7 linked regions of the Homo sapiens genome follow. The protein of the gene in region 5 purifies or fractionates together with the protein of the main gene of each other region. This does not show direct contact. Each region holds a gene or a part of one and is shown on either strand. Other genes may lie near its edges.

Evidence for each region.
Region 1: the proteins of TCEANC2 (region 5) and UBXN7 purify together in Homo sapiens (affinity purification with mass spectrometry; 2 studies listed by BioGRID and IntAct, with this or other methods). This does not show direct contact.
Region 2: the proteins of TCEANC2 (region 5) and RAD18 purify together in Homo sapiens (affinity purification with mass spectrometry; 2 studies listed by BioGRID and IntAct, with this or other methods). This does not show direct contact.
Region 3: the proteins of TCEANC2 (region 5) and DCAF1 purify together in Homo sapiens (co-immunoprecipitation; 3 studies listed by BioGRID and IntAct, with this or other methods). This does not show direct contact.
Region 4: the proteins of TCEANC2 (region 5) and CTR9 purify together in Homo sapiens (affinity purification with mass spectrometry; one large-scale study listed by BioGRID and IntAct). This does not show direct contact.
Region 6: the proteins of TCEANC2 (region 5) and HTATSF1 purify together in Homo sapiens (affinity purification with mass spectrometry; 2 studies listed by BioGRID and IntAct, with this or other methods). This does not show direct contact.
Region 7: the proteins of TCEANC2 (region 5) and PHKG2 purify together in Homo sapiens (affinity purification with mass spectrometry; one large-scale study listed by BioGRID and IntAct). This does not show direct contact.

Annotation. Positions count from the first base shown.
Region 1 is NC_000003.12:196,366,428-196,369,927, forward strand, and holds part of UBXN7 (UBX domain-containing protein 7), read right to left. Parts: intron 3,085-3,500; coding exon 2,994-3,084; intron 1,729-2,993; coding exon 1,601-1,728; intron 1-1,600. UniProt on the Homo sapiens protein: Ubiquitin-binding adapter that links a subset of NEDD8-associated cullin ring ligases (CRLs) to the segregase VCP/p97, to regulate turnover of their ubiquitination substrates.
Region 2 is NC_000003.12:8,900,973-8,904,472, forward strand, and holds part of RAD18 (E3 ubiquitin-protein ligase RAD18), read right to left. Parts: intron 1,549-3,500; coding exon 1,408-1,548; intron 1-1,407. UniProt on the Homo sapiens protein: E3 ubiquitin-protein ligase involved in postreplication repair of UV-damaged DNA. Postreplication repair functions in gap-filling of a daughter strand on replication of damaged DNA.
Region 3 is NC_000003.12:51,423,516-51,427,015, forward strand, and holds part of DCAF1 (DDB1- and CUL4-associated factor 1), read right to left. Parts: intron 2,494-3,500; exon of another isoform or gene 2,395-2,493; intron 1-2,394. UniProt on the Homo sapiens protein: Acts both as a substrate recognition component of E3 ubiquitin-protein ligase complexes and as an atypical serine/threonine-protein kinase, playing key roles in various processes such as cell cycle, telomerase regulation and histone modification.
Region 4 is NC_000011.10:10,754,246-10,757,745, forward strand, and holds part of CTR9 (RNA polymerase-associated protein CTR9 homolog), read left to right. Parts: intron 1-712; coding exon 713-952; intron 953-1,432; coding exon 1,433-1,550; intron 1,551-2,503; coding exon 2,504-2,593; intron 2,594-3,500. UniProt on the Homo sapiens protein: Component of the PAF1 complex (PAF1C) which has multiple functions during transcription by RNA polymerase II and is implicated in regulation of development and maintenance of embryonic stem cell pluripotency.
Region 5 is NC_000001.11:54,102,108-54,105,607, reverse strand, and holds part of TCEANC2 (transcription elongation factor A N-terminal and central domain-containing protein 2), read right to left. Parts: 3' UTR 1-3,500.
Region 6 is NC_000023.11:136,510,219-136,512,846, reverse strand, and holds the end of HTATSF1 (17S U2 SnRNP complex component HTATSF1), read right to left. Parts: coding exon 2,628-2,628; intron 2,040-2,627; coding exon 834-2,039; 3' UTR 501-833; downstream 1-500. UniProt on the Homo sapiens protein: Component of the 17S U2 SnRNP complex of the spliceosome, a large ribonucleoprotein complex that removes introns from transcribed pre-mRNAs.
Region 7 is NC_000016.10:30,754,925-30,758,424, forward strand, and holds part of PHKG2 (phosphorylase b kinase gamma catalytic chain, liver/testis isoform), read left to right. Parts: intron 1-1,257; coding exon 1,258-1,348; intron 1,349-1,442; coding exon 1,443-1,596; intron 1,597-1,665; coding exon 1,666-1,791; intron 1,792-1,879; coding exon 1,880-2,173; 3' UTR 2,174-2,551; coding exon of another isoform or gene 2,552-2,730; 3' UTR 2,731-3,500. Other genes in the region: CFAP119 (cilia- and flagella-associated protein 119), read right to left, coding at 2,552-2,730. UniProt on the Homo sapiens protein: Catalytic subunit of the phosphorylase b kinase (PHK), which mediates the neural and hormonal regulation of glycogen breakdown (glycogenolysis) by phosphorylating and thereby activating glycogen phosphorylase. May regulate glycogeneolysis in the testis.

The sequences.
Region 1 (3,500 bases), on a different chromosome or scaffold from region 5:
ATTGACTGAGCCCAGGAGTTCAAGGCTAGCAAGTTTTTTTTTTTTTTAAAGTTCTCTCAAGGCTGCAAAGACTACAGTGAGTTAATATCATGCCACTGCAGTCCAGCCTGGGCAACAGTGTGAGACCACATCTCAAAAAATACAATACAATACAATAAATACAATACAATACAATAAAAATGTTGCTAGGTGTGGTGCTCACACCCAGAATCCCAACATTTTGGGAGGCTGAGGCGGGAGGATTGCTTGAGGCCAGTTTGAGACCAGCCTAGACAACATACGGAGGCCTCCGTCTCTACAAAACTTTAACAGCTTAGCTGGCATGGTGATGCACATCTGTGGTCCCAGCTACTTAGGAGGCTGAGGTGGAAGGATCGCTTGAGCCCAAGAGGTGGAGGCTGTAGCGAGCCATGATCACACCACTGCACTGCAGCCTGAGAAATGGAACAAGATCCTGCCCAAAGAAAAAAACAGGACGGGCGCGTTAGCTCACGCCTGTAATCCCAGCACTTTGGGAGGCCGAGAAGGGCGGATCACTTGAAGTCAGCAGTTTGAAACCAGCCTGCCCAACAAGGCGAAACCCCATCTCTACTAAAACTACAAAAATTAGCCAGATGCAGTGGTGTACGTCTGTAATCCCAGCTACTTGGGAGGCCAAGGCAGGAGAATCGCTTGAACCCAGGAGGCGAAGGTTGCAGTGAGCCAAGATCACACCACTGCCCTCTAGCCCTAGCAACAGAACAAGACTCTGGCTCAAAAAAAGGAAAAAAAAAAAACCAACAAAACAAAACTATTTTTATCCCTACTGCTATCAAAGCCAAACAGCCATGAAAACCAATGTGAGATTGCTGTATCTTTGCAAGTTCAGTCTCTTATTTGCAACCAATCTTGATACCAATTATCAAACATGTCTACCTAGTAATAGTATATTCTAGAAATTAAGTATAGAAGTAAATTCTAGGAGGGCCAGAGAGCCAGGCCCTAAAGCTATATTAACCAATAAAAATGCTCAACTATACCATGACAGTTGTTTCAGCAAAAACAAAAAACACCACTTCCAGCCGGCTGTGGTGGCATGTACCTGTAGTCCTAGCTATTCGGGCAGTTGAGGTGAGAAGGCTGCTTCAGCCCAGGAGTTCTAGGACAGTCTGGGCAAAACAGCAAGATCCCACTCCAAAACAAAAAACAAAACACACAAAAAAACCAACCACTTTCACTGCTATTTAGACCTGGATATCAGAAGCCCTCCCAGAGCTGCCCCTCAGGAAGTAGACACCTTTACCACTAGGCTTGCCAGGTCAGTCCTCCTGCCCAACCTATTCACATTGCTTCCTTCTAAATCCAGATCCTGGGGCATCTGCCTGCACTCTAGCTGCAAGACAGACTGGCAGGAGTATGAGTATCATGATTTCACCAAGAAGATGGAACTCTCATGTGGGAAATTATCAAAATATAAGGAGGATATCTAAGATGCTATAGCCACAGTGATAGTTGTCCACTAGTTAGATTATCTTTACCATCTTAACATCGAACATTTTATATAAGATGCTTATGACCAATTACATTTATTTTCCCATCACCACCTCCTAATTATACTTACTGAACGGGCACATTTTTTGGGGGGACTGCTAGAAAGTCCATCCAGTTGTCCATGTTCACCCAGAAATCCCGTCACTTGGTCCAAGAAAGAAGATACATCTAACTGGTGCCATTCTACTAGCTTCTGACCTAAGGATTAAAAACCAAGATCTATAAATAAATATAATATCTAGAATCCTTCTGAACATTCTCCAGGATCTATAAATATAATACCTAGAATCCTTCTGAACACTCTCATTAAGTATCTCTTTCAGCATATGCATAGATTAAAAACCTGGATCTATAAAGGTAATATCTAGAATCTTTCTGAACATTCTTATTAAGTATCTCTTTCAGCATATGCATAGATTAAAAACCAGGATCTATAAAGGTAATATCTAGAATCTTTCTGAACATTCTCATTATCTCTTTCAGCATATGCATACATTAAAAACCAGGATCTGTAAATATAATATCTAGGATCTTTCTGAACATTCTCATTAAGTATCTCTTTCAGCACATGCATAAAGTGTACTGTAAAGACATATCCTCTCCACCAGCTTATGCTACATAGTGTCTTCATAACCTAGAAGTCACATCAATTATACTCACCTAACAGATTCCCACCCGTAATGATAGGGCAACTATCTTATCTGCTGCTATCACTTACTGCCATTTAGGAAGAAGAGATTCAGACAAAGCAATATCTATATAAAACACCATCAATTAATAAAACCAGCTCCACCCTCTGCTTCTCAGGTGGGATTACAACTAGTATCTGGGCAATCTTAATATTTTAATGATAAAAAAAACTTTTGTCTTGTTTTGTTTTTTTGAGATGGAGTCTCACTCTGTTGCCCAGGCTGGAGTGCAGTGGCGCGATCTCGGCTCACTGCAACCTCCACCTCCCGGGTTCAGGCCATTCTCCTGCCTCAGCCTCCCAAGCAGCTGGGACTACAGGTGCCCGCCACCATGCCCGGCTAATTTTTTTTGTATTTTTAGTAGAGATGGGGTTTCACCGTGTTAGCCAGGATGGTCTGGATCGCCTGACCTCATGATCCGCCCACCTCGGCCTCCCAAAGTGCTGGGATTACAGGCATGAGCCACCACGCCCAGCTGGTAAAAAAACTTTTAAAAAATCCCTTAAAAAAGGTAAGATGAACATATCAGTTATTCTTCAAAAGAACAGAACTGCACAAACATAAAATACTACCATCTCCCAATGTTGCCAGAAAAAGATGTCCTAAATACATACATCAATAGATGTTTAAATAATTATAAAGGGAAAAAAACGAAACCTTCACCTAAATTACTGCAATTCTGAAAACAGATCCAGTCAAATATTAAAGATCAATCATTTAGGTAACTGAAAGACAAGTAATAGGTTAAAAGCTGCGTGCTGATATAAATCTTACCTGTCCGTGGGTCCAATATGGAAACATAGGGGAAATCCCCTAACTTATAAAACTGTATGTATCTCTGACCTTCCTCACTGTCATGATAAACCTGTTAAATCATTGATATAAAAAAAAAAGTCAGCCTCTAAGAAAAGAACCAACTATAACCTTCTTATACACCAACATCAATTAGCTCTCCAAATATACCTCCGGCCTATGTATTAAGATCTCACTCCTACACTAAAAAGAAAATAAATCTGGTTTGAACTCCTTCAACTTCCCACTTCCAGCACTCTCTGGAAATTTACCATAAACATATTGACCCATTCCTCCTCCTTTCCCAGTTCAGATGAGGTATTATTCTTCCTGCTCAAGTTATCTGTCAACTATGTCATTCATAACTCTCAACCATATACATCTTAATAAATCACAATATATTAAGATTATGGGCCAGGCATGGTGGCTCACGCCTGTAATCCCAGCACTTTAGGAGGCCGAGGCGAGTGGATCACAAGGTCAGGAGAT
Region 2 (3,500 bases), on a different chromosome or scaffold from region 5:
TCTCAAGTGCTAAACTAGTTTCTAGAAATATCCTTTAACAACTGCATGAACAAGTTCGAGTTGTTCAATGACCATGAGTTACATACTGAGGCAGCACTTTATGCACAAATTGTTTATTAGTCACTAGGGAAATGCAAATCAAAACCACAATGACATACCACTTCACATCTACAATTTTTAAAAAATTTAAAAATCAGAAAATAACAAGCATTGATGAGGATGTGAAGAAATTGGAACCCTCATGCTTCGCTGGTGGGAATGTAAGATAATGCAGCCACTATGGAAAAGTTTAACGATTCCTCAAAAGGTTCTAAACATAGAACCAGCATATGAATCAGAAATCGCACTCTAAGCTGAAACTTAAATATCTGACCACCAATGCTCATAGCAGCATTATTTATAAGAACCAAAAGGTGGAAATAACCATAGCAGATAAATGGATAAACAAAATATGACATATACATACTATGGAATACTGTTTAATCAAAAATTTTAAAATATTTTAAAATTTTAAAATGTGCTACAACATTGAAGGACTCTGAAAACATTATGCTTAGAGAAAGAAGCCAACACACAAAGACAAATATTATACAATTCCATTTATATGAGGTACCTGGAATGGGCAAACTCATAGACACAGAAAGTGGAATTGTTATTACCAGGGCTATGAGGCAGAGGGGACGGAAGAGTTGCTATTTCATGAGTGCAAAGTTTGTGCTGGGAATGATGAAAATGTTTTGGATATAGACAGTGGTGATAGTTACACAATATTGTGAATGTACTTAATGCCAATGACTTGTACATTTATGAAGGGTTAAAAAGATAAACATTGTGTTATGTATATTTTACCACAATATAGAAAAACATAATAAGCAATTTTCTTGCGCACTTTCCCCCATTATGATTCTTTTTTGTTCACTGGTCCAAAGCCCAGGCAATAGAATTAAAATATCAATTTCAAATTTTAAAATGGATCAAAGTTAAGGAACGTGCTCTGTATTAGCCTACCAGGTATGTTAACTTTAGACTGTTTGGCAGAACATTTCATCCAAAGTAAACACCAGTGTTCTATCACAAAAATAATTCACTCTCTTTACAGGATCTCCACCAATAAATTCTATATCTAGAAAACATCCTGAAGCTTAAATAACAAAGAAATTTATGATTTATCATTAACTGAAAGGACGATAGACAAAAAGAGATTGTTTCTTCAGGACATTCTTCCAACCACTTTCCCCATAGTAATAAATCTAGTTTACAAACTGCTACATGAAGTTTGTCTAAAAATACTTTTTCTCATTTCAAAGAACTAAGAACTCCAAAGTAAATTTCTTTGGTTTAATTTTTTCATATTAAAAGTAAATAATGAAATTCGACATATGTCTGTTTTTAATTATAGTCTCTTACCCATGCATACAGAAGATAGCTTTTCTGTAGATTCATCTTCTTTTGTTATTGTTACTGTTTTTTGTGACATTCCAGCAATTTTCTTGTATCCTTTTCTAGCCTGATCCACCAGAAGCTGAAATTCACTCTTATGTTTTTTACCTGAAATTCAAAAGATCTTCTCAGTAAAGCTAGGACTATGAAAGTTAACCATCTACAACTGACAAACTGAATATCAAGAGGTGTACAAGGGATGGGCATGGTGGCTTACGCCTGTAATCCCAGCACTTCAGGAGCCTGAAGTGAATGGATCACTTGTCAGGAGTTCGAAACCAGCGTGGCCAGCATGGTGAAACCCCATCTCTACTAAAAATACAAAAAAAATTAGCCAGGTGTGGTATCACATGCCTGTAATCCCAGCACTTTGGGAGGCCGAAGTAGGTGGACCATTTGTCAGGAGTTCGAGACCAGCCTGGCCAACATGGTGAAACCCTATCTCTACTAAAAGTACAAAAAAATTAGCCAGGTGTGGTATTGTGTGCCTATAATCCCAGCTACTTAGGAGGCTGAGGCACAAGAGTCACTTGAACCTGGGAGGCAGAGGTTTCAGTGACCCGAGATTGCACCACTGCACTCCAGCCTGGGCAACAGGGCAAGACTCTGTCTCAAAAAAAAAAAACAAAAAACAAAAAACAGAGGTGTACAAGCTTGCTCAAGAACAGCATCCTTAGGAATCACTTGCAATAAATTTAAAAGCTGCCAAGCATAAGAATACAAAGGGCTGGAGTGTCATGGAACCTTCTTTTTATCTTCTCCCTTCCTCAAATACAAATATGGAAACATGATATTCCTAGTTAGCTACTCTAGGTTTCTTCCCAAACTCCATTCTCTAGAAAGGCTTTTACATAATCATAAGAGCATGAAAGATGCCCGCTTTCTTAAATATATACAAATGATACCATTCTAACTTCCAAGATACAAGAGAACTAAGAGTATTTGCTGAATCTAAAATAGAAGCTTCTAGGAAAGTTGAATCATCATAACAAAGGAATGTCCGTCTACTCCAGCTCTCCTTTTTTTCTTCACATTTCCGGCCGGTTTCCCAGTAGAGCCCCTTTAAGATTCTAAGATCTCTCCCAACCAATTCTACCTTATCTTACGATACTATACTAACTCTAATCTTTATTTACTACCATTTTAACACCTTTGAATATAATTAACCCTGACCTCAAGATCATCATTATTAATGTACCAATCTGTTCAATAAAGAGCAGCCAGTCATCATTACTGTATGGACTTTAGGGCATGTATTTGTGATTCTGAACCATGCAGCTGAGGTCACAGTTTACTTATCTAGCAACGTTAAATACTTAGGCCACAGTCCAAAGTAATGTCATAAATCCTATAAAATTTTTAGGGAGAACCATACTACAAATGGTTAAAACAAAATTTTGACACTGTTTTCATACAAAAATCAACAATGTACTTGTTATCACTTGGTTTCTTCCATTTTCCTTAGCATAATACTAAGGCATAGGGAATTTACTGGGTGTAGGGAAAAAATTGTGCTTCAGTTGAACTATGGCATTGTCTAAATCTACTCTCCCAAGATTCCAGCCATTCACTGCCTTTGAGCTATGGTATAACTCTGTATGTTGTAGATAACTGAGAGCAATGGAAAATAATTCTTGTCTATAGATATGCAAAATCCTGTTGGGTGGAGGTTCAATTGACTTTCCTCCTCCAATGTGGAAGAAGCCAGTTTTTTGCTCATTATACATTCATTTCAATGTTCCTCATCTGTAAATGTGATGATTCTTTGGCTCCTTCTTTGATCACCTCATAATATCAGTCTTCTCTCTACTAATGAGTTTAAATCTTTAATAAAAACACATGTTCATTTTACATCCATATGAGAATGATGTTAGTTGTTTTTGAAAATTATCTTTTAACGCAAAAAGAGAAAACACTAAATTGTGACGCACAAGGAAGAAAATAGTTGGATTCCTATACATGAATATTGACAGGCACAGCAAAGACATTCAGGAAAGAATGCTCCTAATTACAATATTTTTATGTGTATGGTACATGTATGAAAACTTCTAGTGAAACTA
Region 3 (3,500 bases), on a different chromosome or scaffold from region 5:
AAGAAAAGAAAAAAGACTCAGGCCGGGTGCAGTGGCTCACGCCGGTAATCACAACAATTTGGGAGGCTGAGGCAGGCGGATGACCTGAGGTCAGGAATTCAAGACCAGCCTGGCCAACATGTTGAAACCCCATCTCTATTAAAAAATACAAAAACCAGCCAGGCATGGTGGTGGGCATCTGTAATCCCAGCTACTCAGGAGGCTGAGGCAGGAAGAACTGCTTGAATCTGGGAGGCAGAGGCTACAGTGAGCCAAGATCACACCACTGCACTCGAGCTTGGTCAACACAGTGAGACTCCGTTTCAAAAAAAAAAAAAAAAAGAAAGAAAGAAATAATCAGAAGAATTTATGTATTAAGATGTTCATTAGCCACATTAAAATAGCAAAAGAATGAGAAAACCCACATAGACAAGAGCACCATATGTGTTAGAGTATAGTACACTCATAAACTACAGCCATTGACAATCATTTTCAAAGAACCCTAAAGAATGAGGGAAAGGGTTCAAAATACAACATTAATGATATAAAAATAAAAAATGTAAGATATAAAATTAAAAATCTGACAATACCAAGTACTGGCAAGAAAGTAGAGAAATGTTGGATGTCTTTTGTAGTTAAAAAAGAAAAAACCGGCTGGGTGTGGTGGGAGACCAGGGCAGGTGGATCACGAGGTCAGGAGTTCAAGACCAGCCTGGCCAATATGGTGAAACCCTGTCTCTACTAAAAATACAAAAATTAGCTGGGCATGGTAGTGGGCGCCTGTAGTCCCAGTTACTCAGGAGGCTGAAGCAGGAGAATCGCTTGAACCCAGGAGGCGGAGGTTGCCATAAGCCGAGATTGCACCACTACTGCACTCCAGCCTGGGTGACAGAGCAAGACTCTGCCTCAAAAAAAAAAAAGAAAAAAAAAAGTAGAGAAATGAAAGCTCCTATATATTGCTGGTGGGGGATGACAATGGTATGAACATTTTTAGAAGCAATTTGGCAATATCCAATAAAGGTAAGAACACAGACACCCTACAAACCAGATGCTCTACATCATATCCTCAAGAGAGCCTCCAAAAGGAGGTTCATGATACCATTTATTTAATAGCCAAAAAAACCAAACAAAAACACTAAATTAGCCATCAATGGCAGAATAAACTGCAGTATAGAAATACAGCATTTTAAATAAATATCAACATATATAAATCTCAAGAATATAAGGGTAAAAAAAGCAAGCTGTGAAAGATGAACTTAGGAAAATATTTATAATTTAAAAACATGCAAAGCAGTATGACGTTATTATTTATGAACACACAGATATATATAGTATAAAAACATGAGTGGGGAGAATATGGTTCAAATTCAGAAGATGGGTGACTCTGGGGAGGCAGAAAAAGAACTGAGCCAAAAGCAAATACAACAACATGCCAATCCTGGTTAATGATGGAGCAGTTGTTAAACTATTCTCTGTGCCTTTCTATGTTTTGAAAATATTCATAAAAAAGATGAATTTGATTAAAAGTATAATATTAATTATGTGTATTTGCAAATATTACGTAGTGAATGCTAAGAGTAATTTTCTTTTCTCTTTAAAAGATTCTGCATATTCTAAAGCAGAAACATTTATTAATTTTATTTCTAAAAATAAATTTTTAAAATCAAGGACATATTTTTTCAATAATCCAAATACAGGCCGGACCGTGTTTCATGCCTATAATCCCAGCACATTGAGAGGCTGAGGCAGGCAGATCACTCAAGGCCAGGAGTTCGAGACCAGCCTGGCCAACATGGCAAAACCCCGTCTCTACTAAAAAATGCAAAAAGTAGCTGGGCTTGGTGGTGCGTGTCTGTAATCCCAGCTACTTCAGAGACTGAGGCACAAGAATCACTTGAACCTGGGAGGTGGAGGTTGGAGTGAGCCAAGATCCTGCCACTGCACTCCAGCCTGGGCAACAGAGCAAGACTCTGTCTCCAAAACCAACAAAAAAATAAATAAACACAGATGTACCAGTTTAAAAAATGTATTTATACCCTTTCTAGTTATCTTGTAAGCTGTCATCTTTTTTTTTTTTTTTTTTTTGGAGACAGAGTCTTGCTCTGTTGCCCCGGCTAAAGTGCAGTGGCACCATCTTGGCTCACTGCATTCTCTACCTCCTGGGCTCAAGCAATCCTCCCACCTCAGCGTCCCTAGTAGCTGGGACTACAGACATGCGGCAACACACCAGGCTAATTTTTTTTATTTTTGGTAGAGATGGGGTTTCACCATATTGCCCAGGCTGGTCTCGAACTCCTGATCTCAAGCAATCTGCCCGTCTCAGCCTCCCTAAGTGCTGGGATTACAGGTATGAACCACCACGCCTGGCCTATCATCACTTTTTAAACAATTCTCCAAATAAATATAATAACCTACTTTTCCAATATTCTAAAACAGCACTTCTCAAAGTATAGTCTGGAGACCTCTAGAAGTCTGAGACCCTTTCAGAAGGTCCTGTGAAGTCAAAGCTATTTTCGTAATAATAAGATGTCACTTTCCTTTTGCACTCTCATTCTCTCATTGCATAGTAAGAGAGTCTTCCAGAGATGATGTGATGTCACAAAAACTGAATACAGAAGCAGATATGAGATATTAGGCCAGACATTTTTTCAAACTTGCTAAAATTATCTGGTTTTATTTTGGAAATTTTTCATGAATAACGCAAACATGCAATGGGTTCACTTTTTTTTTTTTGAGATGAAGACTTGCTCTGTCGCCTAGGCTGGAGTACAGTGGCGTGATCTCAGCTCCCTGCAACCTCTGCCTCCTGGGTTCAATTGATTCTCCTGCCTCAGCCTCCCAGGTAGCTGGGACTACAGGTGCGTAACACCACCCCCGGCTAATTTTTCTATTTTTAGTAGAGATGGGGTTTCACCACATTGCCCAGGCTGGTCTCAAACTTCGGACCTCAAGTGATCTGCCCACCTCGTCCTTCCAAAGTGCTGAAATTACAAGCATGAGCCACTGTGCCTGGCCCACATTTTTAATGCATAAATATTTTTACATTTTCTGTTTTAATTTCTAATACTGATAGATATAACACAAAAACAAAAGCCTTTTAGAGTTCTCAGTAATTATTAATATGGTAAAGGTATCTTGAAACCAAAAAGTTTAATAACACCTGCTCCAAGAGTACCTTACAATATTTAAATGCTGGGATTTAACAAACTTACTATATTCCCCTAAATAAGCCCCTCTCTTATCTTTATGGCAGTGAGTGAATAGGAAAAGAAGGTCAAGCACTCTGTTTATAAACTTTTTTACTATCTTCTCTTAAGACCCCATCTTTTTCAAAACAGTTTTATTTCTTTTTATATCATCTTCAAATAGAACCTACCCAGTTTCCTGATTACATCAGCCACCCTTTTCTGGGCCTTGTCCTGCTCTGCCTTAAACTAATTTGTGAAAATCCTAACAGTATGTCGAATTCCAAGAGTAAAAGGACAATTTTATATGAACGTAATATAAACATTATATATGGT
Region 4 (3,500 bases), on a different chromosome or scaffold from region 5:
TTTGGTAGATCTAGAACCAGAACCCAAGTTTTCTATTTAGAATTCTTCATATCTTTCACTATTGTTTTCTCTCTTAGGCTCTACTTATCTGAAAATTTTAGTTAGAAATCAACTAGATAAGCAGCAGATTGGGAACATTGTGAATGATTCCAGTTTTTTAAACAGTTTTATTAAAGTCTAATGGATTTATAATAAACTGCACATATTTGACATTTACCATTTGATAAGTTTTATCATCTGTATATACCTGTGAAACCATCACCACAATCAAGATTAATGAATACATTCATCACCTTCTGAAAGTGTCCTCTGTACCACTCCCCACAAGTCCCCCACCCCACCCCTAATCCCTGTGCCAGACAACCACTGGTCTGCTTTTTGACACTAGAGATTGTTTTACATTTTCTAGAGTTTTATATAAATGGAATCACACAATATGTACTCTTTTTTTGGTCTGATTTCTTTCATTCAGCATAATTATTTTGAGATTTATCCATGTTGTAGCATGTATCAGTAGTTCATTCCTTTTCATTGTAGGATAGTATCCATTTTATGGATACACCACAGCTTGTTTATCCATTCACCTGTTAATCAACATTTTGATTGTTTCCAGTTTTTTGTTATTACAAATAAAGCTGCTGTAAACATTTGTGTACAACTTTTTATATGGACATATGCTTTAGTGATTCTAATTTGTTTCATTACCTTATAGCTGGAATACTACAAGCAAGGAAAAACAGAAGAGTTTGTAAAATTGTTGGAAGCAGCACGTATAGATGGCAATTTGGACTATAGAGACCATGAAAAAGACCAGATGACTTGCTTGGATACATTGGCAGCGTATTATGTACAACAGGCTCGGAAAGAAAAGAATAAGGACAATAAAAAGGATCTTATTACACAGGCCACCTTGTTGTATACAATGGCCGATAAAATTATTATGTATGATCAGGTAAAAATAAAGTCAAATTTCTTTCCATTTATGAAGGGAGAAAAGCACATGAAAGCAAAATGTGTGTGATAGCAGATTTTTTGAAAGAGTTTTTCTTCAAGTAACATGGTTGATAGAGTCAAAAAGAAGAAAGGTTCCTCATTAAAATCGGAATGCTTTGGTTTTTGTACTGTTTAAGTAATATGGACAAATGTAGTACATAAAACTTGCTCCAGTAATTTTATTATCTCCAGGTGAATTTCAAGGATATTTTAAGGAATTTAAATTTTTCTTTTGGTTGTTGTTATTGGCACAGAAGACTTACATTTCAGGATAATTTCTTATTTTGTAATTAAGAATTGCTTGTTAGTAGCTTAAGCACGTTACATTTGATAGGGGAATTTGCACTGTGCTCCACCTCCTTCCTATTTGGTTTTCACTTTAGTGTTACATGTTCATGGTATATAGGGGTAAAATCTAAGATAATACATTACTTCATAGAACCATTTGTTGGGAAGAGCCTGCTTCTGCCTACTTGAGGGTGACAAAATGGATCAAGCTGATGCACAGTTTCATTTTGTACTCAATCAGTCTCCAAATAATATTCCAGCCCTTCTTGGTAAGTGGTCTTTGGCAACATGTTAGGAAACAGTTGTTTTCAGCATATGCCTAGAATATATCTCTTGGTAATAGCTCCTTAATAACTCAGCTAGACAGCAAAGTAGAAGAGCTTTATGTTGTTACAAATGAAATTACCTACAACAAATATTGTTGAAATTGTAGAAATAAAATATATACCAGTTAAGAATAATTTATTATTTAGGCCAGGCATGGTATAATCTCAGCACTTTGAGACCCTGTCTCGTTATACCTGTAATCCCAGCGCTTTGAGAGACTGAGGCAGGAGGATCACTTGAGGCCAGGAGTTCAAGACGAGCTGGGGCAACATAGCAAGACCCCATCTCTACAAAAAATAATTTTTTCAAAAAAGAGTAATTGGTTATACACTTCTGAAGAGCCAATAAACAATCTCTACTTAGACAACTTAAAGTTATTTCAATTATTACTTTATAACATTTTTTAAACTTTTATTGAAGTTCAGTGGTACAAGTGCAGGTTTGTTACATAGGTAAACTTGGTCATGGGGGTTTGTTGTGCAGGTTATTTCATCACTTAGGTATTAAGCCTAGTACCTATTAGTTATTTTTCCTGATCCTCTTCCTCCTCCCACCCTCCACCCTCCAAAAGGCCCCAGTATGTGATGTTCCCCTCTGTGTCCATGTGTTCTCATCATTTAGCTCCCACTTATAAGTGAGAACAGGCAGTATTCAGTTTTCTGTTCCTATGTTAGTTTGCTAACTTTATAACATTTAACATAAAAATAGGAAGTTTTATTTTTAGACATAAATTAGTATACTTTTATGAAAAACAAATTTTTAATATGAAATTTTGTTCTGTGTTTTCAAGTATTTCTCACTCAGAGATGTATTTAACTTAGATAAGTTAGTGTAAAACATAATAGACTTGTAGCCTTTAATCAGACACTGTGTTTATTTTTAAAAATCATTACAGGTAAAGCTTGCATTTCCTTCAACAAGAAGGATTACAGAGGAGCTCTTGCTTACTATAAGAAAGCATTGCGTACTAACCCAGGATGTCCAGGTAAGAGAAAAATTTTATTTTATGTCTAAACTGTGTATTACCCAGCTTAAAGCATTGAGGATTTGTCAGTTGCTTATGAAGTTATGAAAAGATATTGTTGGATTATAGAAATGTCAGAATCAAGTTTTTTTTTTGATGCTATGTTTGAGTCAAAAGCTGGATAGTAAGGCCAGGTGCAATGGCTCATGCCAATAATCCCAGCACTTTGGTAGGCAGAGGCAGGACTACTTGAGCCCAGGAGTTTGAGACCAGCCTGGGCAACGTAGTAAGACCCTGTCTCTACAAAAAATAAAAAAGTTACATGAGCATGGTGGCACACACCTGTGGTCCCAGCTCCTTAGGAGGCTCAGGCTGGAGGATCGCTTGAGTCTGGGAGGTTGAGGCTGCAGTGAGCCATCATTGTGCCATTGCATTCCAGCCTGGGCAACAGAACAAGACCTTGTCTCAAGGGGAAAAAAAAATAGATAGGGTCTGGCTGCACTGGTTCACACCTGTAATCTCAGCACTTTGGGAGGGTGAGGTAGAAGGATTGCTTGAGCCCAGGAATTTGAGACTAGCCTTTGCAACAAAGGGAGACCCCCATCTCTACAGAAAATCAGCCGCACATGGTAGTGCTTGTGGTCGCACCTACACAAGAGGCTAGGCAGGAAGATCACTTGAGCCTAGGCATTTGAGGCTGCAGTGAGCCATGTTCATGCCACGGCACTCCAGCCTGGGCAACAGAGCCAAGACCCTGTCTCAAGAAAAAAAAAGTCTGGATAGTAGATTATAATATAATCTTTTTGCCCTATACTATTTTTCTTTCCAAAATGTCATTCATGTAGCAAATTTTTACTGAGTACCAACTATGTGGCAGGCAGTGTTCTAAACCCTGAGAATGTAGCAATTAACCAAAGAGACAAAAGTT
Region 5 (3,500 bases):
TGTTAACAAAAACTGGAAGAGCTATGTTATAGGCCCACTTCCTTGGAAAGTAGACTCTGAGATGGAGATTAGCATGCGGGAAGTTTATCAGGGATTGCTCTTGGGAAGGGGGCAGGAAAGGAAGCAGGATTGCTCAGAGAGATAAATTGGGCTCCGATGCTGTATGAAGACCTCAGCCAGTCTCATGGGAGGGTCTTGAAGCTGAGATGGCCCTTCCAAGTTGTCAAGTTGAGGCAGTGGGGCCAGGCCTTCATAACCTTGAACTGACCTGCCTGGGAAAGGGGTATGTCAGTGAGGTAACTCTTCCATTGAGGAAAATTCCCAGGGGGCTGACAGCTGAAGGCTGCTGGCTGAGAGCACTCCCAGTAGCTGTGGGAAGAGGCCCAGGAAGCATGGTGGCTGGGGGGTCTGGGCAGCACAGGATGGTGTCCACTACAGCCCACATTTGTGCTGCTCAGCTCTACTTTTTGGTTTAAGTTCTGGTGGACCTCCTTTCCTGGGGGAAACTTAGGAAAGTAAGTTGGACAAACTACAACCTCCATCACTGACTGGTCTTGAGGCCACAACTGATACTCATCATCTCCCTCTTCTACTATCCATTCTAGATCCTCCTTACCCTCAGCCAGCACGTGTTCCGGTCTCCGTCACTTCCACGGAGGCATGATTTAGACCCTCAGCCCTGAGGGGGCTGAGCCTGAAGTCAGCATATCCTGCTCAGGTCACGGTCTGGGCACTTGTATAATTATTTTATAAATATTGGGCAAGGGGCCAGGCGCAGTGGCTCACGCCTGTAATCCCAGCACTTTGGGAAGCTGAGGCAGGTGGACTGCTTGAGGCCAGAAGTTCAAAACTAGTCTGGCCAACATGGCGAAACTCCATCTCTACTAAAAATACAAAAATCAGCTGGGCATGGTGGCACATGCCTGTAATCCCAGTTACTCGGGAGGCTGAGGCAGGAGAATAGCTTGAACCCAGGAGGCAGAGGTTGCAGTGAGCCGAGATGGTGCCACTGCACTCCAGCCTGGGTGACAGAGACTCCACCTCTGAAAAAGAAAAAGAAAAAAAAATTGGGCAAAGGAATACCAAGAAGTCTCCACGTGAATCAACTGAGTACCAAAGATATACCTCCCTTCCCTCCATTGCTTAACAGCAGCTGTACCTCCTCCTGATGATCAGGATTAATTATCCCTCAAAGAATGGTGACTGTTCTTGCCTAGTAGTCTCCTGATATGAGGAGCTCAAGTGCCCGGGTGCAGTCACAGCTAATAGTTCATAGTAATCTTGATGTTTCTTTTAGTGGAAGTGTTCCTCCTTTGTGACTCAAAACCTCTAAACCTGCAGAGCCCAGAACTATGAGAACAGGAGGCACTCCAAGTGGGTCACTAGAAGTGATGGTAAGAGTGAGAGCACTCCTGCTTTCATTTCTTGGTTCCTGGACTCATGTATTCTACCTATTGGAGACAAAGCATCACGTAACGGTCTTTGATTTCGAACATGTGCTGCACCCTGGAGGATGGCAGCTCTTCTCTCAGGGTTTCTGAGCTGGTGCCCCAGCTGTGCCTTCGACACAGTTGCAAGCTGGCAGCTTCAGGATAGCGCAGTAGATGAAAGGACAAGTGGACCCTGTCACCATGTGCCCACTGCTGCACCTCCTTTGCTGTGGAATCATATGGGATCCTGTATGACTATCCCATAATCTATAGATCCCATAATCTATCCCAGTAGATTAAACATTCTATAAGCCCTTTGAGAGTTGTGCTGGATGAAGCTCTACAAGCAGTGAAGATGAACTCGTATCTGGAATATACATCTATGCCAGTGAAAATGAATCACAGCTCTTTCCAGGGTAGACAGGGTTTAATATAGCCAACTTCCCAAGTGGCTGCTGGTTGTTCTCAAGGGATGGAGCTATATCTAGGTTCAGAGTTGGTCTCTGTTACTGGCAGGCCGAACACTCAGCAGCAGCAATAGCTAGATCAGTCTTGGTGAGTGGGAGCCATGCCATACCATCTGATATGGTTTGGCTCTGTGTCTCCACACAAATCTTAACTCGAATTATAATCCCCACGTGTTGAGGGAGGGACATGGTGGGAAGTGATTGGATCACGGAGCCGGTTTCCCCCATGCTGTTGTCATGATAGTGAGTGACTTCTCAAGAGATCCGATGGTTTCAAAGTGTTTGGCAGTTCCCCCTTTGCACTCTCTCTCTCCCCTGCTGTCTTGTGAAGAAGATGCCTGCTTCCCCTTGCCTTCTGCCATGATTGTAAGTTTCCTGAGGCCTCCCCAGCCATGTAGAAATTTGAGTCAATGAAACCTCTTTCCTTCTTAAATTACCCAGTCTCAGGTAGTATCTTTATAGCAGTGTGAAAATGGACTACTACACCACCATGGTTGCTGTTTATACACCCATTGTGTCAGCTCTGGGGTGGCCTCAGAGACTGGTTGATGTCAACTGTGTGTACATTGTTGTTTAGTGCTTCTCCATGGTATGTGCTCTCTGGTGGGTGTTTACATGGAATACAATGATCTTCACACTTGGTGCCCACTCCTATAGGTCCAACTACATGCCTCCACCACAGGTCTCCTTGTTTCCAATTTTCCAATCTTATTCCTTTCAGACCCCTTACCAACCAGCCAAGCCATTCACCACTGCCCATGAGATCCATGTATAGTCTAAGCTCAGGCTCCTTCTCTTTCCACATACAGTGGATGGCTAGGTGCATGATGCACAACCTATGCCCACTAGAAGGACTCCCCACTCTGCTGTCTTTCAAGGATGCCCCTGTGTGGGGCTGCAGTGCAGCCACGGTCTTTTTTTGTCTTGCTCACACACACTGAGCTGACCTATCTAAGGATAAGGCATGGCTTTTTTTCTCTTCTATCAGCTGGATATTATAAAGAGCTCCCCAGGCAGCCAAAGGTGTGAAATGAGGAACAGGCAGGTACTGGTGCAAAGGTAGTGGATGACATAGATGTCTGGGCCACCTGCTCACGTAACTATCTTCTGCCCTCTGGCCCTGCTATGCCCAACCCCAGTTGTATTATTTCTATCTTAGGAATTGCTGCTGGCTTTGCCTGACCTTATGACTTGGTGGATATGGCAGAATCCAGCTCATGATGAACAGCTTTGGTCACATGGTCAACTTGATGATCCATGGTCTGATGATCTGTCTCTACCAGAACCCTGTAGCATCAAGAGTTGTTTCTTAAGAAGTATAAAATTCTTGGCTACAGATGGCATGGCCCTGCTCCAGAACCCCAGGTGTCTACATTGTGATTCTCCTGTAGGGTCTTGTCATAAACTTCACAGGCATCTGTTCCCACCACAGATACCTCGGGTACTTTGGGCTCTGCCAGCTCATCTGTCCCACACCGCATGGCCACTTGTGTTGTAGCCTGGAGCTTCTGCTGAGCCCTTTCCTGCTCTGGGCCCCAATCAAAACACAACTTTCTGTGTCATCCGGTACATGGATGGAGCATATTCCTAGGTGTGGGATATG
Region 6 (2,628 bases), on a different chromosome or scaffold from region 5:
CAACTGAAGCATGCATGAAGTTCTTCAACTTCAGGGAATCCATGAACCTCCCCAAACAGTACACAAGTTGTGTAGTGTAGTGTGTACATTTTTTTCTGGGAAGAGGTCCTCTAATTTGAATTAACTTCTAAAGGGGCCCAGAGACGCTAACAGTACAAGGTAGAATTCTAATCTGTTTCTTTAGATTTTTAATAATAATGGGAGCTGTAGACTGCAGGAAGTTCACTTTTGCACATCTGAGAGTCAATTTTAATGGAAAGAGGGTAGAAAACAAACAAGAGTTAATTTGCAAGGACTGGGCAGAAAAAAAAAATCCAGAGGGTTGTTTTCTGAGTTTAGGAACATGTTCTGGTTTATAGAGAGGAAATGGAGACATACGTGCTAATACCAGCGGGAAGCAAGGAGACTCCAAAGAGATTCTTCAAGTCCTCAGAAAAGCCAACCTTCAGTATAAATAAAGCAATATCAAGAATTTAAAATGCAATTTAACTCAAGTCCAATTTTCAGTTTCTGCATATTATCAACTCATTTTTATTGATGAATATCACAAACTTCAATCAATACTCTTAAAAATATTATTCTGCATGCATTTAACAAATCTGACAAAAGAACAAGTATCCAGTTTACTTGCATTGTAACTATGACATTTTAACTAAACAATCAATTAACATATATTTAAAACCATTAGGTACAGGTAACAATGAAACACTTCAATGCTTTAATCTGATGGCATCCTACCACTATGCACATGTTCATGTAACACTACTAGTAATTACCCTGAAGCACAGGCAAATGTAGATGGAGGACTCTCCCTAAAAAGCAAGTTTAAGGGATTAAATATCATCGTCATCATCATCGCTACTGAGAATAAAGCTGCTGCCAGTGGATAGGGGCCCTTCTTCAACACTCCCAAAACCACCCAAAGTCCCCCTCTCATCAGAATCGTCAAACAACTTCTCACTGGAATCTTCCTCCTCATCAAACAACTTCTCATTGGAATCATCATCTTCGAACAACTTTTCGTCAGCATCTTCAACTTCCTTTCCATCTGCATCTTCATCTTCCTTGTCATCTGACTCTTCAAACAGCTTTTCATCTGCATCACCTTCTTCCGCCTTTTTATCAGCAGCTTCAAGCCCCTTTTCATCTGCATATTCTTCATCCTCTTTCTCATCAGACTCATCATCAAATACTTTTTCATATGTATCCTCCTCTTCTTCCTTTTCATCTGAATCTTCGTCAAACTCTCTCTCAGAGCCTTCCTCATCTAACACTTTTTCAGAGCCGTCATCTTCAAATTCGGAGTTTTCAGAGTCATTTTCTTCTAACTCTTTGTCAAGAACATTTTCATGAAGCTCCTTTTCAGAACCTTCCTCGTCCAAATCTTTCTCGAGACCATTTTCTTCAAATTCTCTTTCGGAGCCATCTTCAGACTGTTTTTCAGAGCAGTCTTCATCAGACTCTTTCTCTGAGTCATCTTCTTCGGACTCTTTTGTGGGGCCAACCTCCTCTTCAGACTCCTTGTTGAGGTCATCTTCAGATTCCTTTGCAAGGCCATTCTCTTCACAATCATTTTTGAGTGTCTTCTTTTTAGACTCTTTTTTAGGACTATCCTCTTCAGATCCTCTTACGGGATTGCCTTCTTCAGACTCTTTTTGGGAGCAGCTGCCTTCAAACCCTCTTTTGGGGCAGCCCTCTTCAGATTCTTTTTCAGGGCAGCCTTCTTCAGCCTCTTTTTCGGGGCTACTTTCCTTAGCATTGTTTTCAGAAGCACCTTCTTCAAATTCTCCCCCATCTTCTGTCTTTTCAAACTTCTTCTCATCTATAGGTTCTTCAAACGCCATTCCAGTTGCAGTTTCTTGAGCATTCATTTTAGATGTGCTGGGGTGCTCTGAAAAATGCCTTGCTCTAGAAGGCCCTGCCCTTTCGGAAGCAGAGACAGAATCTGAACGCCTAAGGCCTCTGTTGGCCTCAGGAGCATTGAGGAAAGCCTCCCATCCTCTCAGCCTTTCCTCCCTTTCTCTTGAGGTTTCCTCCACCTGTGGATAAATGGAGACTGCCATTAAAATAAGTTTCAGGCAAAAGGTTACTTCTCTGAACATATCTAATATTGATGAAACAACCTTAATTTTATAAAGCATCTCTTATTAGGAAATGAAAGCAATTCCATCTTCAGTTTTCAAAACTTTACATCTTGATTTACTAGAGTTGACCTTAAATAAGACCACTTAAATAAAGGCCAAATATCACAGTACTGCAGAAATGTCTCATCTCTTAAAAAGTTAATATTTGAGCTCTGTCTATACTTTACAGCATACAAAGGAAGAGTAACATTTGGTTGAATGTGTTCTTTTCTTATCACTATTCTGAACAAGCCTCAAACTTTCAGACTTAGAAACTGAAAGACTCAAACATTTCTCTATCTTCTGAATGCAAAATATTATTTAAAAGCAGCACTGTAAATAATTAAGAGGAAGAGTAAAAAATTAAAATATATAAGTAAATAAAAATAAAAGAAGCATTGTTACATTAAATAGGTTAAACCAAACCCAAAATTTAGATCTGAAGGATCAGTATTTGTTGGTAATGAAACAATGTGTGTGCCCTTGACAAGCAGCAAAATTTACC
Region 7 (3,500 bases), on a different chromosome or scaffold from region 5:
AGTGCAACTTGGCATTCAAGAAATACTTGGTGTAGGAATGAATTTCCCAACAAAGTCAGTTTCAATTCGGGGCTGTTAAAATCTCCTGGAAGTGTGCCATGGAACAAGGTTCAGAAAGTACTGGAAGAATTGGTGCCCGAGTGGTAGAACAAACTAAAAATACAGACTTGAGCCAAGCGTGGTGGCACGCATCTGTCACCCCAGCTACTCGGGAGGCTGAAGGAGGAGGCTCACTTGAGCCTAGGAGCCCAAGGCTACAATGAGCTGTGATAGTGCCACCACACTCCAGCCTGTGTGACATAGCGACCCTGTCTCTAAAAATAAATAAATATAAAAATACAGACTTGGATAAAGTTTTGGAGGGCTCTGGACTTTAGAACTGTAGATTTGATCATGTGTCATGATGTGGAATCAGGGAAGGGTTTTAAACAAAGGACTTACCCATTATGTGCTTTAAGAAATCCCATAGCTCGCCGGGCGCGGTAGCTCACGCCTGTAATCCCAGCACTTTGGGAGCCCGAGGTGGGCGGATCACGAGTCAGGAGTTCAAGACCAGCCTGGCCAACACGGTGAAAGCCTGTCTCTACTAAAGATTCAAAAAATTAGCCAGGCGTGGTGGCACGTGCCTGTAATCCCAGCTACTCGGGAGACTGAGGCAGGAGAATCGCTTGAACCCAGGAGGCGGAGGTTACATTGAGCCGAGATCATGCCATTGTACACCAGACTAGGCGACAGGGCAAGACTCCATCTCCAAAAAAAAAAGAAAAGAAATTCCTTATCTCCACTTCTTCCCCTTGGGTTGAGTGATAGTTGGAGATTATAGGAGGAGGAAGAGGTTTGGGCAGATAGGAATGCAGAAAATTTTTTTTTGCGTATGTATTATGATGTATGTAAAAATACATAATCTTTCCATATGCATTATGATATATATAAAACTAAGGTAACAAGTTGTGAGGAGTGGGTAGGTTGGCTTGGATAGTGGGTAGGTAGGGTTGGAGGAGGCAAATGATATGGTGGAACAAGGACCTTGAAATCAATCCAAAACCCAGGTTTTCCTAGGAAGGCCACCAGGAGCCATGGTGAGCCAACTGTTGCGCAGGGATAGTGCCTCAGCAGGAGACTTGGCAGAAGGCAGACAGAAGGAAGATGGGAACACTGGTAGTCCTGGCAGCGTTGAGGAGGCTCCAGCAGAGATCCAGTGCTAAGGGCCCTAGAGGGGCTGGTGGCATCCCCTCAATCTTGGTCCTCTCTCCCCAGAGTTGTGTGGGACCCCAGGGTATCTAGCGCCAGAGATCCTTAAATGCTCCATGGATGAAACCCACCCAGGCTATGGCAAGGAGGTCGACCTGTGAGTTCCTGGTCTCCCCCTCCCTCCCGTGCTTGCTGTCCTTTGCTGGGTCTGCCCGTCACCTAGTCCCGCCTGACTCCAGTCTCTTTCCCAGCTGGGCCTGTGGGGTGATCTTGTTCACACTCCTGGCTGGCTCGCCACCCTTCTGGCACCGGCGGCAGATCCTGATGTTACGCATGATCATGGAGGGCCAGTACCAGTTCAGTTCCCCCGAGTGGGATGACCGTTCCAGCACTGTCAAAGACCTGGTGAGCGGGGGCTGAGAGGACAGTAGGGGAGGCCCAAGAGCTGCCCCTCATGCTCTGGGTCTCTCCTAGATCTCCAGGCTGCTGCAGGTGGATCCTGAGGCACGCCTGACAGCTGAGCAGGCCCTACAGCACCCCTTCTTTGAGCGTTGTGAAGGCAGCCAACCCTGGAACCTCACCCCCCGCCAGCGGTTCCGGGTAAGCCTGAGTGTATCAGGGTCTGGGCCCGTTTCTCTGTCCCATGATCTTTCCCCTGCACTAGAGCTCACCCTGCCCCCCTTCCCAGGTGGCAGTGTGGACAGTGCTGGCTGCTGGACGAGTGGCCCTAAGCACCCATCGTGTACGGCCACTGACCAAGAATGCACTGTTGAGGGACCCTTATGCGCTGCGGTCAGTGCGGCACCTCATCGACAACTGTGCCTTCCGGCTCTACGGGCACTGGGTAAAGAAAGGGGAGCAGCAGAACCGGGCGGCTCTCTTTCAGCACCGGCCCCCTGGGCCTTTTCCCATCATGGGCCCTGAAGAGGAGGGAGACTCTGCTGCTATAACTGAGGATGAGGCCGTGCTTGTGCTGGGCTAGGACCTCAACCCCAGGGATTCCCAGGAAGCAGAACTCTCCAGAAGAAGGGTTTTGATCATTCCAGCTCCTCTGGGCTCTGGCCTCTGGCCTCAGGCCCACTAATGATCCTGCTACCCTCTTGAAGACCAGCCCGGTACCTCTCTCCCCACTGGCCAGGACTCTGAGATCAGAGCTGGGGTGGAAGGGAGCCATTCTGAACGCCACGCCTGGCCCGGTCAGTGCTGCATGCACTGCATATGAAATAAAATCTGCTACACGCCAGGGAGAACAGGTGTCCTGTGTCTGTCTGGCTTGGGCAGGAAAGCCCAGAAGGTGCTCAGCAGGGTGCAGGGATGGTGCCATTCTGGCCCAGACCTTTATTGGGGAAAATGTTGGGGGTCACTTGGTCTTGCTCTTGCCTTTACCCGGAGGTAGCTGGAAGGGCCGCTCTAGTGCAGTCAACTTGCTGCTGAGCCTTTCCTCGCTGGCCTTGAGCCGCTCCTCCACCAGCCCCTGGAGCTGCTCCAGCTCTTTGTTCACTTGGGTCTTGATGTAGGCTCGGAGGACGTGGATGTGGCCTGCAGGGGCAGGGAAGAAGGGGCAGGGTGAGGAGAGATGCTGTCTGGCAATGGGGGGATGGTCCCTAGTTGGGCAAACAGTCCCCAAATTTCCCCTGGTGGGGATATAGAGGTAGCAATGTTGTTTCCCTTTAGGAAATGTTAGCAAGCCCTTGTGTGAGAGGTAGTTGGGTAGGGTGGCTATGCTGGACTTTGCAGCTTCAAATTCTGATCCCTACTCAGTAGCTGTGTGACCTTAGGCAGGTTATTTAACCTATCTGTGCCTCAGTTTCCTTGTATGAAATGTGGATAGTGATACCTAGCACATAGGATTGAGGGAGGATTAAATGAGTTAATTTATGTAAAATGCTTAGAGCAGGGCATGCACTGCACACCTATTGCCAAGTATGTGCTGGCTGTTATTGTCATTGGCTTTCTCTTTTTTTTTTTTTTTTTGAGATGGAGTCTTGCTTTATCCCCCAGGCTGGAGTGCAGTGGCAGCGATCTCAGCTCACTGCAAGCTCTGCCTCCCAGGTTCATGCCATTCTCCTGCCTCAGCCTCCCAGTAGCTGGGACTACAGGCACCCGCCACCACGCCCGGCTAACTTTTTGTATTTTTAGTAGAGACGGGGTTTCACAGTGTTAGCCAGGATGGACTCGATCTCCTGACCTCGTGATCCGCCTGCCTCAGCCTCCCAAAGTGCTGGGATTACAGTTGTGAGCCACTGCACCTGGCCTGTTCTTTGTTTTTTTTTAACTCTTAAGTTCTGGGATACGAGCAGAACATGCAG